Linked DNA regions of Homo sapiens: region 2 is linked to region 1. The links come from fine-mapping of genetic effects on plasma protein levels. Region 1 holds a variant in brackets. A gene starts in the other region. All regions are shown on their forward strands. Region 1 has its middle 87 kb from the start of FASLG. Region 2 holds the start of TP53BP1 (tumor protein p53 binding protein 1).

The links. PIP is the posterior inclusion probability: the model's chance that the variant is causal. Protein levels are from antibody-based Olink assays in UK Biobank. Linkage for the fine-mapping came from a reference panel and not from the study's own genotypes, which makes the PIPs less certain.
Region 2: TP53BP1 starts here. The variant in region 1 is fine-mapped to the plasma level of the TP53BP1 protein (UK Biobank, PIP above 0.99).

What each region holds. Positions count from the first base shown.
Region 1 is chr1:172,741,529-172,750,367 of GRCh38, forward strand. It overlaps the pseudogene SLC25A38P1. Among named protein-coding and RNA genes, the nearest start is that of FASLG, 87 kb to the left of the region's middle. The variant A/G (reference allele first, on the strand shown) is at 5,034.
Region 2 is chr15:43,488,940-43,497,778 of GRCh38, forward strand. TP53BP1 (tumor protein p53 binding protein 1) reads right to left here and starts at 4,217. Exons shown (of 28, transcript NM_001141980.3): 1 at 4,098-4,217; 2 at 3,345-3,529; 3 at 3,063-3,156; 4 at 2,730-2,814. The coding sequence starts at 4,104. RefSeq lists enhancers at 3,243-3,951, 3,952-4,658, 6,155-6,655.

The sequences.
Region 1 (8,839 bases):
TTTTTGGTGCTATATGTCAAGTTATTTTGGATTTTATTGACAATTTGAGTACTATATGGGGAGACTCTATGTCCTAATAAAGTCCTTTGGGGAAGGTTATTTTTTGGTTGTTGTTATTTTGCTTTTGTAGATACTCAATTTTGTTAGGTTCAGACTGCAAGTTTTAGCTCACCTTTCTGGATGGTGATTCCAATGTTAGTTACATTTTCAAGGCCTTTGCTGTGCTGCTCTGGGTCTGTCTGTGCATGTGCTACTCAGAGATAACTCCAGTGTGTCTTTAGCTACAGAATTAGAAGATTTCCTTCTCTAGCTCTTTCCCCTCAAGTATTTCTTTCCCCCAAATTCTCTGACTTCCAAGGGCTTGTTTTCCTAGTTATGTGGTCACTAGAAAGATAAGATTTAACTTGAAGCTATAGTGACCATAATACCCATAATTCTCCATGATCGGGGCTGCCTTTAGAGCAAAATGGCAGAGAAAAGAGAGAGGAAGATAAAACATAAAAGTGATTCATCTACCCTTTTTGTACTACAGGATTTCCTTTTGGTTCCTTTCTAGTTCCTCTGGCCCAAAATTTGGGTTTTCCCTCAAGGTGTTAGGTACTGGAGACATTGTTGCCACCACATTGTAGGTTCATGGGTGGGCTGCCCTTGGTGTAGAACTGGGAAAAAATAGAAAAACTGATGGGAATTTTCTACTCTTCCCATTTTTCCCAGTCCTCTTTTTATGGGGACCTATTTTCTGGGCCCTCTGATCAGAAATACTCTTAGAGCTTTTGCTGCTCGCTTCCATGATGGAACCACTCTTGAGTCAAAGTGGGAAAACAAAAGAACAAAAATACCAAGGAAATTCACCTGTGAATGGATTTTTCTTCAAGCTTAGCTTCTCCTTCCTAATTTGCTTGCATTCTTAATTTTTTTAGAGCTCTCAAGTAGTTGCAGTTTATGTTTTGTCCACTATTTTCAGTTGTAATCCATGAGAGACAGTGGCTGTAGTGGACTTGTTCCCTCTTGGCTAGCAATAGGAGTTCTCTGTATCTATGCACGTTTGTATTGATTCTTCATAGCTCACAGTGTCTGTCACCTAGGTGATGAGCAAAACGTATGTATTGAGTGAAAGGATGAATGAATAGACAAAGGAATGAAAAAATAAGAATATGAAAAAAATAAAGGAAGGAAGAAAGAAGATGAATAGATGGATGGGCAAGGAACATGTGATTCCTACAGGTGTGTCAGTGTTTAGGCATGATTCTATTTTATGGTCGCTAGATGGCAGTAGAAGACAACGCCCACTCAGCGATTTTTTTAAAAAAATGTATTCAACATTTATTGACAGTCTACTATAGGCAAGGCACTTTATTAGGAACTGAGAGGGGTGAAAGTGGGGAGGAGGATAGGGTCCAAAGAAAAATAAGAGTCAGCTTCTGGCCTTTAACAATTCACAAGTTGACAAGTACAGAAAGATTAACCAAATTATGGACATCCTTAAATGGGGTGAGGGGCCATAGCCTCTACATTCATGTGGTCATGGCCCTGTCTGAAGGCTGAGAATTAGGTGGGTGGGCAGATTTTAGGGGCAGTACACTGTTCTTTGCTGGTGGGGTGGCCAGCCACCGCTGGATCAAAAGCCAAAGACTCAATTGCTTCTAGGTTCCCAGACGGAAGCTGAGTGACTACTGCAGCCTGCCTGCAGTAGTCACTTGATCCTCTGAAGGGCCTGGATGGACTCAGCTTGTTCTCACGTGGGGATGTGGGCCTGGCATTACCAGATCTTCCATTTCTCATGACAAGTCAAAAATACAAACTGATATGAAATTTCCTGATTTGTAAATGCTGGCACTAATTCACAGTTTACAAAGCACTGAGTGAGTCAATCAAAACACATCTATGGGAATGGAGTTGGCTCTTGAACCATCATCACTTCGTGATCTCTATTCCAGAGAGTCATCTGTGAGTTCCTTTCATGGTCTCTGCCATGGATGCCACTCAGACCAAAGTGTCCTTTGAAGGAGTTCCTCCTTTTTTCCCCCTCTCCTTGTTCCCCATTCCTTATGTTCAGAGATTCCCTAAGAGAGCAACACTTACCAGCTTTTCTCCATGCCAGTGAGCCCTACCTGATCTCTCCTCTAGGAAGGAGCCACCAGGCTGGCCAGTCAGGGCAGGTGGCTGGGTTGCAAGCACTCCATTTCTGGTGTCCTTCTTACATCTCAAATACATCAGTTTGAGCTTTTTCATGACCCTAAAGGTTCATTCGTGTGCAGAAAAGATTCAGAAATTATTTTGATTTTAAAAATTAATTTTCTTTTTAAATCTATTTAAAAGTTCCTTCAAACATTTAGGTTACATTTAAAATATTATTATTCTATTTACATGTCTACATACATACTTTATTAATTGCTTCATATTTTTTAATAGTTAGATCTGAAGGAGAATTTAGATTTTCAGTTTCTCTTGCTGATTCCTTATTACAACTATCCAGGACAAAGGAAAAGGATGATTAGTATTCCATGTTCCCTGAGGCCATGGAAGCTGGGAATCTGGTCCAAGGGCACTAGGGTGCCTGAGAAATGCAGTACCAAGAGGTACAGAATGTCGACTCAGGAAGGAGGTAGGGAGTTTCTTTCCCTCTTTCTCTCCTCCAGTGATCAGTACTCCAGGTGGCATAGCAAGAGTCAGAAAAGTACAGCAGTTGCAAGGGCGTTTCTCTCTGAGGTTCAGCCTCAACTCTTCCTCTAACCAGGGACGTCACTTTGGACACATTGCTTAGCCTCTCCATGCCTTCATTTTCTTTCTGTGAAGTGGGAGTGTTAACATATTCTGGAAGGTGTTGGGAAAGGGAAGATGTTGATCAAAGGGTATAAAGTTTAAGTTAGATTAGAGAAATATATTTTAGTGTTCTATTACACTGCATGGTGACCGTGGCTAATAATATGTTATTATATATTTCAAAATTACTAAAAGAATAGATTTTTAATGTTCTCATTACAAAAAATGATAAGTTGGTGAAGCGATCGATATTTTAATTAGCTTGACTGAGTCTTTCTACAATGTATACATAGATGAAAACATCATATTGTACCCCATAGATTTATACAATTATATATATTATCTCACAGAGCTATTCTGAAGATTAAGTAAAATGTCTGGCCTAATATAAACAGGAGGTAAACAGATAGGTATTTATTTCTTGTTTCTTTGATATAAATGTTGACATCGGATTTATTTGTTAGGACGAACTATAGACAAGATGGTGAGAACCAGCAAGATGTCCTCAGGAATTCCTGCTTCACTTATCCCACAGAGCTGACTGTGGCCCCTTCAGAAGTCCAGATACTTTTTATTCTCATTTCCTTTCCAGTCTCAATGTGAACTCTTAGCAAAAAACTGGATCCTTCTCAATCAGCTATTTCCTTCAGAGAGGCGGAAGAAGGAGAGATGGGTGAGGGGTCATCCCAGAAATCCTAGTGGACAGGCCTCTTCTGGGAGCATCAGATGCCTACAAGGTGTTTATGGACTGACATCTGTGAGTGTGTCTGTTTTCTTAGTGTTGGTGTCAGGGTGTGTAGAAGTTGAAAGTGAATGGCAACTCTAGTGTCTTGTTGTGTTACGAACTTTCACCAGGTGGCAGAAGAGTACTGTGAAGAGAAGTCACAAGGATTCACAATCACTCTCCAAAGTAGTGGGAAGTCAAGCAAGAAAGGGTGGCTTGTTCAGAACAGTTGCGATCATTCTGAAAGCAACTCATAAGGGTTGGCAAGTTAAGCTCCAATATGAATTCATTTAGAAACCAGAAAAACAAGAAGAGACTAGCTTGCCAGATGAGAGGAGATTCTGTATGAAAGGAGAGACTTCTAGAAGTGTGGTTGGCAAACCATCCCAAAAGCCTGCACAGTAGGGTAACATGAATGGACCTCATTTAGTTGATTACCTGGAAGTTCAACTGTGGGTATGAAATGTAGGATCAGCTAATATGGTGGCAGAGGAGCTGGTTGCCTATATGGTTTAATTGGAGAATTCCTGAATCTATTTTCTTCCACCCAGTTTCTCTATTATGGTTTATCTGGGGTCAGCCTTTTCTCTAAAAGGTCACTATTATAATGCAAGTACGGAACACCCCCCCTCCCCAGCCCCTTAACTCTTGTTAACTGATATTAATTCTTCTGATTAGTTTATGTCACTTGGAAGAGTGGATTGTCCCAAGGAAAGAATGGAGAACAGGCTAGACCTTGGTGTTGCTAAAGCTAGTGCTGCACTCATGGCTAGGCCAGTGTTCTCCTGTTGAGTAGAAACAATTTCATAGAATGCCAACATCAGAAAAGGCACTCTGTGATCACAATAGAGAAAGAAATAAAATCCACTCTATAATCCTGTCTGAGCACAGATGAAACCAAGAGCGTTGTCTAAAAGTGACCACAAAAATGACCAGTGTGCCCCTATCCTTATTGATATAAGAGATTGCTGCTGCTTTACCAAGGAATGCTTTAGTCAGTCTCGTTTTATTCTTCACACCTTCTAGGTAAGAATTATTAAGATACCCAGTCATGGGATCCTAACAATATCTAACTCAGAGAAAAGATCCACTTCTTTAAACCCTGTCCAAAATCACTTAACACGAGGTTTGGCAAGAGAGCACCTGACGTTCAGAGAGAGATGAAAACTAGGGAAAGAATGTACCAAAGGAAAGGAAAGAGATGATGAAGCCAAAACCTCAGGGCTTTACAGTGGGGCCTTGAGTGGGCTCTTGTTTCAATGTATTCAGTAACCAGAAGCCAGGGACCCTGCTTGCACTGCCTGCCACTGACATTTCTCCTCTGATCTAAGTCTCTGCTTAACAAAGAAGCCTGTGGCTACTCTTAAAGTCTCCCCATCTGGAATGGGGGTGAGTTTGTTCAGCTCACTCCTTCTTCTCCTTCCTGAGCAGCTGACTTATTCTGATGTGGTTTTGCGGTTATACAGTAAGCAGCACTGCTTATGTGGACATGGTGTACTTTCAGTTTCTGAAAGTGAGTCATGTTGACTTTCCTCTGAGGAGTAAG[A/G]GTGACCCTTGCTTAAAAGGACAACATGACTAGAAGGAAGAAACACCAGAGGCCACCAGGACCAGAATGTTTACCAATGTAGGCAGTCACTAGTTTTTAGGAGTAGTTTGTGTCATCTTTTTAAACAAGGTAAACTAGGAAGAAACATTTGGTTTTGAATCTTTGAGTGTTTGCCAATGTTTGAAGTACTTATCTATTTTTACTCATCATTTAAAGTGATGTTTGTGGCTAAGAGCTCAAGATCTACAAACATACTTAAATAAGTTTACATTTGGTCAGCTGGAACCTGATGGGGACATTTCCAAGAGGATCACTTGCTAGTATTACATCTTTAATTTTCATGTATGTTAATGGCTTGTGATATTGGACTATTCATCCAGGCCCTAAGAAATCTCAGCAGGTCTATTGAGAATCAAAATTAAGGCTGTACATAGCCACTATACAGAATAAGGAGTTTCTTGTAATCTAACTCTCCTTCGTGGTCTTATTTGGTTAATTTTTTCATGATAACATGTAGAGCCAATATGGGCTCTTGTCACCACTTCTGCATCCTTGCAAGCATTGTTAATTGTCTTATGTTTTTCTTGCTTAGCCAGGATGTAGCCTCAAGATACTTCCCGTCACCATGCTCCTGACAGCCACTGCTGTCAGATCACAGTAGATAAGTGAGATCAAGCCCACTTGCATGTCTGCCCTAGAATCTCCATTTAACTTTGCTCTTGGGTATCCAAATCATAGGAGTGCCGCTGTCCTCCAATCAAGGAGACTGTCTTTCTTTCCTCAATAATTAAATCCCTCTGGGTCCAAGAAAGCGCGAATAGAATTATTGTCAAATTCTATATCACTGAGCCATCATCACTACCTATTGCCTTGGTAAGTCATTTGGGCAATTGGAGAGAATAAGAAAAGCCCAGTAGTGAAGCAGCATGTATTAAATAATTAGTGAGATATTCAAGACAGTTTATATTTCACAAGTATATAAAAATTGCTATTACTTCACGGGACTGAATTTCCTTTTCTATTTTCTCTTTCTTTCTTTCTTTCTTTCTTTCTTTCTTTCTTTCTTTCTTTCTTTCTTTCTTTCCTTCCTTCCTTCCTTCCTTCCTTCCTTCTTTTTTTTGAGATGGCGTCTTGCTCTGTTGCCCAGGCTAGAGTGATCACAGCTCACTGCAACCTCTGCCTCCCAGGCTCAAGCGATCTTCACACCTCAGCCTCCTGAGTAGTTGGAACTACAAGTATGCACCACCAAGCCCGGCTAATTTTTGTATTTTTTGTAGAGACGGAGTTTCATCATGTTGCCCAGGCTGGTCTGTGAACTCCTGGACTCAAGCCATCTGCCTGCCTTGGCCTCCCAAAGGGCTGGGATTACAGGGGGCTGAATTTTCAAGGCAAGGCAAGTCCCCCTTTTAACTTTTGTTAGGTACTAGGCCTGTCATTTGGTAGTTGCTATAAAGTAGGTGGCAGCATCTATTAGGATGGAATAGATTCAGTAGGGAGACTTACTAAACTGCTAATATTTATGAAATTTAGTATGTGATAGCTATTTGTACTTCTTAATAAAATATATTTATTAAAATCATAACATACAAGTACTGATTAAATATTGTTCTAGCTGAGAGTCTTGGTTGCAATTAATAGGTATAAGCTCTAGATTATATAAGCAGGAAAAGGACTTATTGAAAGGTTCTAGACACAGAACCTCATCTCCTCCGGTGCTGAAGCCCGCGGCGGGGCAGGATGGGCAGGAGAGCAGAGCCGCGGAGTCTGCCGCGCGGGTGAAGAGCGGCGCGTAATTCCTGTGGCGGAATTGTTCTGCGCCTGCAGCCCCTGTGTTAGCAGGATCTGAACCCGGGCGGCTGCATGCTTACAGGCGCAGAGGTCAGAGAGCCCTTGGCTTAAAGTAAGCCATCCCCTCACCTTCTTCGAGGCCTCCAGGGCTGGGCCCAAGCACCCGTCGACGGCACCCTGGGCCCAGAGCACTCGCGGGCCTCATCTCCAATGATTCAGAACTCACATTCGTCACTGCTGCAACCCCAAGATGTCAGAGACACAGTGGAAACGCTTATGGTATGAAGAAAACATGAGGCACCACCAGTTACATCTGGTGATCAAGGCTTTCCTGTGTGGCTCCATCAGTGGAACCTGCTCTACCCTCCTTTTCCAACCTCTGGATCTCCTTAAAACACGCCTGCAAACCCTCCAGCCCTCAGATCATGGGTCTAGACGTGTTGGGATGTTGGCTGTACTCTTGAAGGTGGTTCACACGGAGAGTCTTTTAGGCCTTTGGAAAGGGATGTCCCCTTCCGTTGTGAGATGTGTCCCTGGCGTTGGAATCTACTTTGGCACTCTCTAGTCTTTGAAGCGGTATTTCTTGCGAGGCCATCCCCCAACCGCCCTGGAGTCAATCATGCTGGGGGTGGGCTCTCTCTCTGTTGCAGGGGTCTGTATGTTACCCATCACTGTAATCAAGATGTGCTATGAGAGTGGGAAATATGGCTATGAGAGTATCTACGCTGCCGTGAGGAGCATCTATCGCAGTGAGGGGCACCGGGGCCTCTTCAGTGGCCTGACAGCAACTCTCCTTCGAGATATGCCCTTTTCAGGAAACTACCTGATGTTTTACAACCAGACCAAAAACATAGTGCCCCATGACCAGGTGGATGCAACCTTTATTCCTATTACAAATTTCAGCTGTGGGATATTTGCTGGTATTCTCGCCTCACTGGTAACTCAACCTGCGGATGTTATCAAAACTCATATGCAGCTTTACCCACTGAAGTTTCAATGGATTGGCCAAGCAGTGACACTTACTTTCAAAGACTATGGACTACGTGGCTTCTTCCAAGGTGGCATCCCCCGAGCCCTCTGCAGAACTCTAATGGCAGCAATGGCGTAGATGGTGTATGAAGAGATGATGGCCAAGATGGGCCTGAAGTCCTGACCAAGAGAGGACTGGGAAAGGGTGAAATCTATTGCCCTGCTTGGTTTCTGCCAAGGGCTGCTGCTGCTTACTATTCTGCAGTAAGATGAAGTCCTACCTGGAAAACCAGGCAGAAATTGTGTTGCCTTTGCCTTCGGTAATCCCTTTAAGGAGAAAAATATATGGACCTGATTTGAGCCTTCACAATCTCCAAAAGAGGAGTCACCAATACATAGAACACACTGGGGTGTTAGGAGAGAGTTTTGCATACCCTGAGAGGCTACTTGGAAAGGCATTTTCCCAGGAGAGCTCTGTCAGGTGGCTGCGCTTCTGGCCCACACCTACACCACAGGGTCTCCTTGGGTACGTTCTTGGGCAAGGAATCACAAAGCCAGAGAAGCTGTAAGCTGCCTGCCGGGCCTGAGGAGCTCCAGCCAGGGAGGACTGGATGTGAGGAGAGGAGTCACTGTTACCAGGTCACAGACTGACTGAGGTGATGGTAGGATGAGGAGGAATAGATGCCATTCTTTAATTGGTTCTCAGTCAACTTCTCAGAGGCTCTGGGGAACGGGACAGTGGCTTTCTAGCCTCTGAATGTCCAAATAAAATTTTTTGGTCTTGGCCCCTGTATTGTTTCACCTCTAAATTCTGGCATTTTTTTTTTCCCTGCAATTAAAGTGCTTTACTTTAAAAAAAAAAAGTTTCTAGAGTAGCTCAGAGAAGCAACTAGAAATCTAGAAGACAAGACTTCAATCAAAAGACAGTCACCACACTTCCGTCAGGCTGGTGCAAGAGCTGTGTACTTGTCTGATTCTCAGAGAAGAGAATGAAGGTTCTTTAAAAAAATATTTTAAGGACATGTCTATGCATATATACAATATATTTT
Region 2 (8,839 bases), not on the chromosome of region 1:
TCCAAATTCTTTCCAGCTTCATGGCCTATGCACACACAGTTCATTCTGTTTGGACAGCTCCTCCTTTCATACTGCACATAGAAATGTGCAGCTCTTCAACTATGCCCTCCAAGCCCTTCAACTATGCCTAACAAATTCATATTTATTGTTTAGATTGTATTCCACAAAGAGGTGTCCCCTTATCCTTCTGATTACGTTATATATATTTTTTCTCCTCTTTGCAATGATCACAGTTGTAATGGAATAGCTACTGATGTAATGACTCATTTAACATCTGTCTCTCCTATTAAATTATAAGCTCCACAATGGCAAAAGCCCCTTTAAAGCACATGCCACAGTGCCTGCACATTTATTTAACATGAAAAGAAGTAGCATGAAACTTCTCAAATAGCATTGCTTCATTCACAATGAGGGACGTGCATACTTCCTGTCCCCACTGGCTCAAACCAGGATGCTGAGCCACAAAAACATAGATAAGCCTGGCACATGTTCTTAAAGAGGTACCATAAACTTAAATGCCCACAGAAATCAAAGCAAGATAACATAGATGAGTGAAGCAGCTGGGTGTAAGAACAAAAGCACAAGCACTATGATAAATGACAAAAGAACACCTGGCCTCAGTGTCCAAGTACAATAATGAATTGTAGTGACTATGGCAAATCATAGCACTAATGCTCCATCTAAGCAGAGGCTGACTGCTACTCATAACTCCAGCCAACTGTTGCCAACAGAAACAAGAAATGCCAGAAGCTGGAAGTCTAAGTTTTATGAGAAATTTCCCCATTCTAAAATTCTGTCAATTAATTCAAATATATTAACATTTTACCACCTATGTAGGCCAAATAAAACACTTCTGCAGGCCACAATGAGCCCATCGGTTTGCAGGTTGTTCTAAAGCATTTATTTTACTTGATGATTTGTGAGAAAAAAAAAATTACGTACAGACACAGAGTGTAAAATAAAACACACCTCCAAAAAAGCTTTTCTTTTTGAGACAGGGTCTCACTCTATCAACCAGGCTGGAGTGCAGCGGCACAATCACGGCTGACTGCAGCCTCAATCTTCCAGGCTCAAGTGATCCTTCTATCTCAGTCTCCTGAATAGCTGGGGCTACAGGCACGGACCACCATGCCCTGCTATTTTTTTTTTTATTATTTTATTTTATTTTGAGACAGAGTCTCGCTCTGTCACCCAGGCTAGAGTGCAGTGGCACAATTTCGGCTCACTGCAACCTCTGCTTCCCAGGTTCAAGTGATTCTCCTGATGCAGCCTCCTGAGTGGCTGGTATTACAGGTACCCGCTACCACACCTCGTTAATTTTTGTATTTTTAAGAGACCGGGTTTCACCACGTTGTCCAGACTGGTATCAAACTCCTGACCTCAGGTGATCCGCCCACCTCAGCCTCCCGAAGTGCTGGGATTACAGGTGTGAGCTACCACACCCAGTCCTTTTTTTTTTTCTTTTGTAGAGACAGGGTCTCACTAGGTTGCCCAGGCTGATCTCAAACTCCTGGGCTCAAGTGATCCTCTTGTCTGAGCCTCCTAAAGTGCTGGGATTACAGGTGTGAGCCACTGCGCCCAGCCAAAAACCATTTCTTTTTAAGAAAAAACAATAGTCTTTAACCATCTCAAGCTAACATTCTCCTCTCTAACCACCTCCCCTTTCTACCACCCCAAAACTCCTGAAGTTCTCTACATTCTCCTTGGACCTTAGAAATATTGGGGCGGAAGACTGAGAAGCACTGATTAGTTAGAATGAAAGAGGAGGCATTAGAGTCATTAGGACCAGGTTCAAAGCCAGCTCTGCCACTTACTAGCAATGTACTCTAAAGCAAGTTATCTAATTTCTTTGTCCATCAATTTTCCCGTCTATACAATGGAAGTAATGTAATGTCTTCATCGTACAGCTGCTTTAAGAATAGGATTAAATAACATTATACTATATGCCAAACGTCCAATACAGGACCTAACACAGAGCATGAACTCAAAAAATGGGTATTATAAAGATATGCAAAAGACATGGTAACAATTGAATCTTGTTTAGGGTAAGAATTAAACATTCTAGATCTAAAACTGGTGGGGTACTTCAGTTGATAGATGGAAAACATGCCTAATAGTTCTGATAATACTCCTAAATTTTTTTTTTTTTTTTGCTGAGACGGAGTCTCACTCTGTCACTCAGGCTAGATAAAGTACACTGGTACAATCTCAGCTCACTGCAACCTCCGCCTCCCAGGTTCAAGCAACTCTCCTGCCTCAGCCTCCTGAATAGCTGGGATTACAGGCACGCACCACCAGGCCCAGCTAATTTTTCTGTTTTTAGTAGAGATGGGGTTTCACCATGTTGGCCAGGCTGGTCTCAAACTCCTGACCTCAAGTGATCCATCCGCCTCAGCCTCTCAAAGCGCTGGGATTACAGGCATGAGCCACCATGCCTGGCCCCTAAATACTTTTTAATAATTTTTTTCTACTAGGAGGAATGCTTATTTTGTTTCACATGCACAAGACAGATCATGATTTGAATAATGTAGGTATAAAAATTATTACCTTCACAAAACAGTTTCCAGCTATCAGTACTATTACAATACTATCTAATACAACCCTCAAGTCCCATTTCCTAATCCACAAGAAAGAGATTAATCCTTTTATCCTTGGGATGAGGCAACAGGTACAGATAAAAGAACAAATCTGATAATACATTTAAATAAACCCCTTCAAACACTGTATACCTGCTTGTCCTGTTTGGCTGAGGTAACTGCTCAATGACCTGACTGATGGAACCACATGTGTCCAAGTTAGAAGAATCCACAGGGTCTGAAAAAAATAACTGGATATTAGCATGAAAGACATTTACCAACAAACCTTAATACAAAATCAGGAATACAGACAATACCAATCTAATCAGTGACACTAGCACATCAACTTTTGAGTGACTACTACGCAGATACCACAGTAGGCTTCCTTACATACATTCGACACAACCACATAAAGTTTAAATCCACCCAGCACCAACAAGAGCACCCAAAAAATGCAAAGGGGACAGATAGCTTTAAACACCTCACCTGCAACCTTGTTTTCTTTCAAATGTTCATTGAACCCACTATTACCGTCTCCTCGTTCTTCTCCAGCTGTTTGTTCAGGATTGGACACAACATCCTAGAAAATACACATACAAAATATCCCCATTATATATGAAATAGTTCAAAATGAAACCTACTATTTGTGAACAATTTTTCCAATCAACTTTATTGAGAAGGTAATGATCTTCTAAATACTTATGTTTGCTGGTTTTCGGTTTAAAAAAAAAAATCTGCTCAATCTTCTTCAAACAAGGTATCACTCACCAACACAGGATTTTCTTTGTGCGTCTGGAGATTAGGAAGGTGTCGAGATAGCATACTGAAGTGAGAACCAGAATCATCCTCTAGAACCTGGCTTTCAGGCTGAGAATCTTCAATTATCAGGCAAGGAGTATCTTGCTGAGAGAAATCTGAATCCAACTGACTTCCAGTAGGGTCCATCTGCTCCCCTGGAATGGAATAACAAAAGATCAGTTCCGTGTAACCTACTAGCCTTGCTCACGCAGTCTAAACCTAAATAATGGGGCGGAAGTACAAGAGCTGGGAAACGGGACCACTTCAGGACTCCTCCAATTAGAATATTATATTTATAATTGCTGCAAGCACTTTCCTATCATGCCTACCAAGTCACCATTCCTCGTTATTTACAATAAGCCTGACTATCCCTCCCTATTTTTCATCACCTTCTCGTAGACACCCTTTCCCCTCCTTCCTAACCTCTTCTCTCCCCGCCCCTTTTTCCATCCCCCCCGCCACGTCCTTCTGGCGCCTCTACCTCCCCCCAAAAGAATGTTTTCTAAAATCTGTTCGCCAGAGGCCCCACAGCCTTTCAGCTTTCCTCACGACCACCAAGCCTTCTTAGCTAACGTTTCCCCACCCCCTCCTTAGGGCCCTCCAACCCCTTCCCCGTCACCGCCGCCATGCTTGCCACCCCGCCCCCTCCGGTCAGCCATCCCTTCAGACCCGAAATCCAGGCCTTCAGAGCCCACTGCACTCCCATTTCTCTCCAAACAGTACCAGGCATCCCGGCGGGAGGTCCCTCGCGCTCGAGCTAGAGGTCTCTGCACGCTCCCCAAGTCCCTCCAGATCGATCCCTAGGTCGCCGCTGTCGCCACCGCCGCCACCGGCCGCGAACTCCCCCTTTCCCGTCACGTCACACAATATCGGATCGTCCATTCGCTGCCGCCGCCCGCCACTCAAGAAATCCCGTGGATGATAGGTAGCTGCGGCAGAGTGCCCTGCCCCACGTAAGAAAAAGGAACACGGCGGCGCGTTTCCATGGCAGCATGGACGTTGCAGGCCCTCCCCTTTAGTAGAGCCGGAGAATGACGGTATCCTTGAACCGAAGGGACCTTGAGAGGGCGTGAAATACCTTCCCCTGCTTCCAGGACGATTGCATTTACCACTACTCAGACATTTCAGTACCTCTACCTGCTTTTTCTCGTTCACGCCCCTTAATCCCCGTCCCTCACCCTCTTTCCTGGAAAAGGAGAGAGTTTCCCAGCTTTCTCATAACAGGGCAAAGAAGAAGCGGCTTGAGGATGGCTAGGTACTTCAGAGCTGGTGAACCCAACAGAAGAGACTCTTTCTTCTTTGACACAGGGTTAACCTGTGTCAATCAGGATCCCTTTTGTGGGCCTCTACCCTGAATCCAAGGGCCTGACATTACATCTCTGCCAGGGCGTTTTTAGTATTTGTTTGTTTTTACATTGTATAAGGGCTCCAGTAAGCCATATTTCTTCCCATTGCCCTTTTCCGCCTAGGACGTATTTCAAGCTTCACACTTGTTTATCGTTGCCTTATCTTTTATGGGATTGCCTGCAGAGACTACAGCCCCAGACATATTTTGCACCTCCCATTGAGAGAATTGAGCACTGTCATTCTCAAACTCCATGGTAAAGAGAACAGCTGCCACCCCTTCTAACTAGATGACCTCAAAGATACTTCCAAACCCAGAGATTCTATTATCCTAATTATGGTGCCAGGGTCTTAAAGAGGGTGTGGCAGCTGTGACGAGTCTTAATGAACTAAGCCCCATGTGGCATATGTGTTTGTTTTGTTGTTGTTGTTGTTGAGGGGTGGGGGTATATTATTTAAGTGGCAGTTGGATCCAGGATAGAATTCTAGCCAGAGCAGCTGTCAATAGGGAAAGCACCTAGCACAGTGCCAAACATATACATAGTAGGCATTCAATATGAGGCAGTTTTCTCTTTCTACCCCAGGCTCAGATTTATTTCGGCACAGCCCAACCATGATTCTCCATTTCTGTAAATGCCCAATTCAGCACGTGATATAGGCAAAGCTGAAGTGGAGCTTCCTACCAGTCTTCTCACTGCTGCTATAAATTACAGTGATCCTATTTTCCAAACCAAATTCAAAGCATGTTGTCTGAATACACGTTACTTATGGGAACAAAAGGACTGACTCCTTGAAACTGTCCTGAAAAATCTAGAATCTATTACTGCTATAACTGGAATATAATTATGGTCGCCAGTATGTTTTATTAGTGGAGCTAAAATGAAATGGACCACACAGAGATGCATCTCACTTCTTAATCTTAAAATCATTTATAATTGACTCTTTTCATACTCCACTCCTAAAGCTGCAGAACACCAGTGACTAAACAAATCTAATACTTAAAGACCAGGTTAGAGCAATACTAACTACACTAGCTGGACAAAGTGAGTTCATCTGCTCTATTTGAGAGGGCACAACCAACCAGGTCCTGTTATGAGTAAATCATGACCTTGAGTCCCATAAAAATCCCCCAAAAGTTACCATTTTTTTGCTTTTCTTCTCCAGCCTGCTTCTGCTTCCTCCCCAAGTGAGGCACAAATAAACAGATCTGTTTGATTACTTGACAAGTGTGTTTGTCGAAACATAAAATGGCTGGGCGCAGTGGCTTACACCTGTAATCCCAGCACTTTGGGAGGCAGAGGCAGGTGGATTACTTGAGCCCAGGAATTTGAGACCAGCCTGGGCAACATGGCAAAAGCCCATCTCTAAAAAATATACGAAAAAAATTAGCTGGGTGTGGTGGCATGTGCCTGTAGTCCCAGCTACTCAGGAGGCTGAGGTGAGAGCATCTCCTGAACTAGGAGGCACAGGTTGCAATGAGCCAAGATTGCAACACTGTGCTCCAGCCTGGGCAAGAGAGTGAGACCCTGTCTGAAACAACAACAATAAAAACCTAAAAACCGCCAGGCGCAGTGGCTCACACCTGTAATCCCAGCACTTTGGGAGGACGAGGCGGGCGGATCATGAGGTCAGGAGATCGAGACCATCCTGGCTAAGATAGTGAAACCCCGCCTCTACTAAAAATACAAAAAATCAGCTGGGCATGGTGGTGGGCGCCTGTAGTCCCAGCTACTCAGGAGGCTGAGGCAGGAGAATTGCTTGAACCCTGGAGGCGTAGGTTACAGTGAGCCGAGATCGTGCCACTGCACTCCAGCGTGGGCAGCAGAGTGAGACTCCGTCACACACACACACACACACACACACACACACACACACAAAAGCCAGGTGCGGTAGCTCACGCCTGTAATCCCAGCACTCTGGGAGGCCAAGTCGGGCAGATCACGAGGTCAGGAGATCGAGACCATCCTGGCTAACACGGTGAAACACGGTCTCTACTAAAAATACAAAAAATTAGCCGGGTGCGCGGGCAGGCGCCTGTAGTCCCAGCTACTTGGGAGGCTGAGGCAGGAGAATGGCGTGAACCCGGGAGGCGGAGCTTGCAGTCAGCAGAGATCGCGCCACTGCACTCCAGCCTGGGTGACAGAGTGAGACCCCGTCTCAAAAAAAAAAAAAAAGCCTAAAAACCTCAGCCTGACTAAAAATAGATAAATAAATGAGTGAGCCATTTGCATTACTAAACAAGAATCTTAAAAAAAACTGTTAAGAAAAACTATTAATTCCTTGTTAGGCAGTGTGGCAATTAAATTAATCATTAAATTATCCAGAAAAATAAACTACAGGCAGAATGGTTGCAGCTAGATGAGCCAAAGGCCTTTATTGACTCCTAGACTGCAAAGGACCAACAGCACATCTACCTGTCTACAGGTAACATCTTTTCCTAAACCACCTTAGACAGAGAAATCTAACTTACCTCTAAAGCCCTCCCAGAGAAGGCTCATCAGATCTTAGGTTAACTTGCTTTAAAGTTTAACAAACCTCATTGTCAGAAATTTTTCTTCTAATATTAATCTTCTAATCTTCTAACCTAAATCCTTTATTATAGAATTTAAAGCCATTTCCTCTCATATTGTCTTTAACTGCTATCTTTAAAACCTAGATAGATGTCATTAAGTTGGGATCATCTCATTTGGTCCTATAATTATATAATAAATTTCAAACCATCAAACAACAAATCTAAATACTATATGACTTAGTTTGTGAGTATTTTTCTGAAGCCTCCTCAAAGACTTCTTAAGCAAAAGAACCCTAGCCCAGCTTATTCTTCCCTCACAGGTATTCCACCAACCTTTAAAGTTGCTTCACGATCTTATGAAAACTCATAGTTTTGGAGCTCAGTGGCAGAGTACTCTACTGAGGAGAATTGACAAGTGCCAAATTTAATGATAGGAAAACAATCATATATTCCTTTTTTTTTTTTTTTTTTGAGATGGAGTTTCACTCTTTTTGCCCAGGCTGGAGTGCAATGGTGTGATCTCCGCTTACGGCAACCCCTGCCTCCTGGGTTCAACTGATTCTCCTGCCTCAGCCTCCTGAGTAGCTAGGATTACAGGCATGTGCAACACACCTGGCTAATTTTGTATTTTTAGTAGAGACAGAGTTTCTCCATGTTGGTCAAGCAGGTCTCGAACTCCGGCCTCAGGTGATCCGCCCACCTCAGCCTCCCAAAGTGCTGGGATTACAGGCATGAGCCATAGTGCCCAGCCTCTCCCCTCTTTGTATAGAAGTAATCAAATCTTCACATCCAAGTATCATCTCCTGTCCACTCTACTTCTCTACGTTTGCAGTCTGGCTTCAACCTCCATAAATCTAATGCCTAGCACAATGCCAGACACAAAGTAGTTACTCTAAACATGTTAATGACTGATTCTAAAATTTTCTTGTCAAATTACCTCATTATCAGCCAGGTGCGGTAGCTCAAGTAATCCCAGTACTTTGGGAGGCCAAGGCAGGCTGATTGCTTGAGCTCAGGAGTTCAAGACTAGCCTGGCCAGCATGGTGAAACCCCGTCTCTATTAAAAATACAATGGTGGTGTGCACCTGTATTCCCAGCTACTCAGGAGGCTGAGGTGGAAGAATCACTTGAACCTGGGAGGCAGAGGTTGCAGTGAGCCGAGATCGCACCACTGCACCCCAGCCTGGGCTACAGAGTGAGACTCTGCCTCAAAAAACAACAACAAATTACCTCATTATCTTTGACGTCTGTAGTGTCTGATGCTGTTGCCATTCCCTCCTCAAAATTCTCATCCTGTGACTCGATAAATCCTGGCTCTTCTCTACCATCTCAGCTTTCTTTCCAATTCCTAACTTCCTGGAAGCCAGTACTATAGAATAAAAATCGAGAGTGATATGAACATGCTCAACACAGATGAACCTTGAAAACATTATGCTAAGTGAAATAAGCCAGACACAAAAGAACAAATATTGTGTGATTCCACTTATACGAGGTACCTAGAGTAGGCAAATTCAGAAAGAGAGAAAGTAGAATGGTGGCTGCCAGGAGCTAGGAGGAGGGAGGAAAGGGAATTTATTGTTTAATGATTTACATAGCTTCAGTTTGGGAA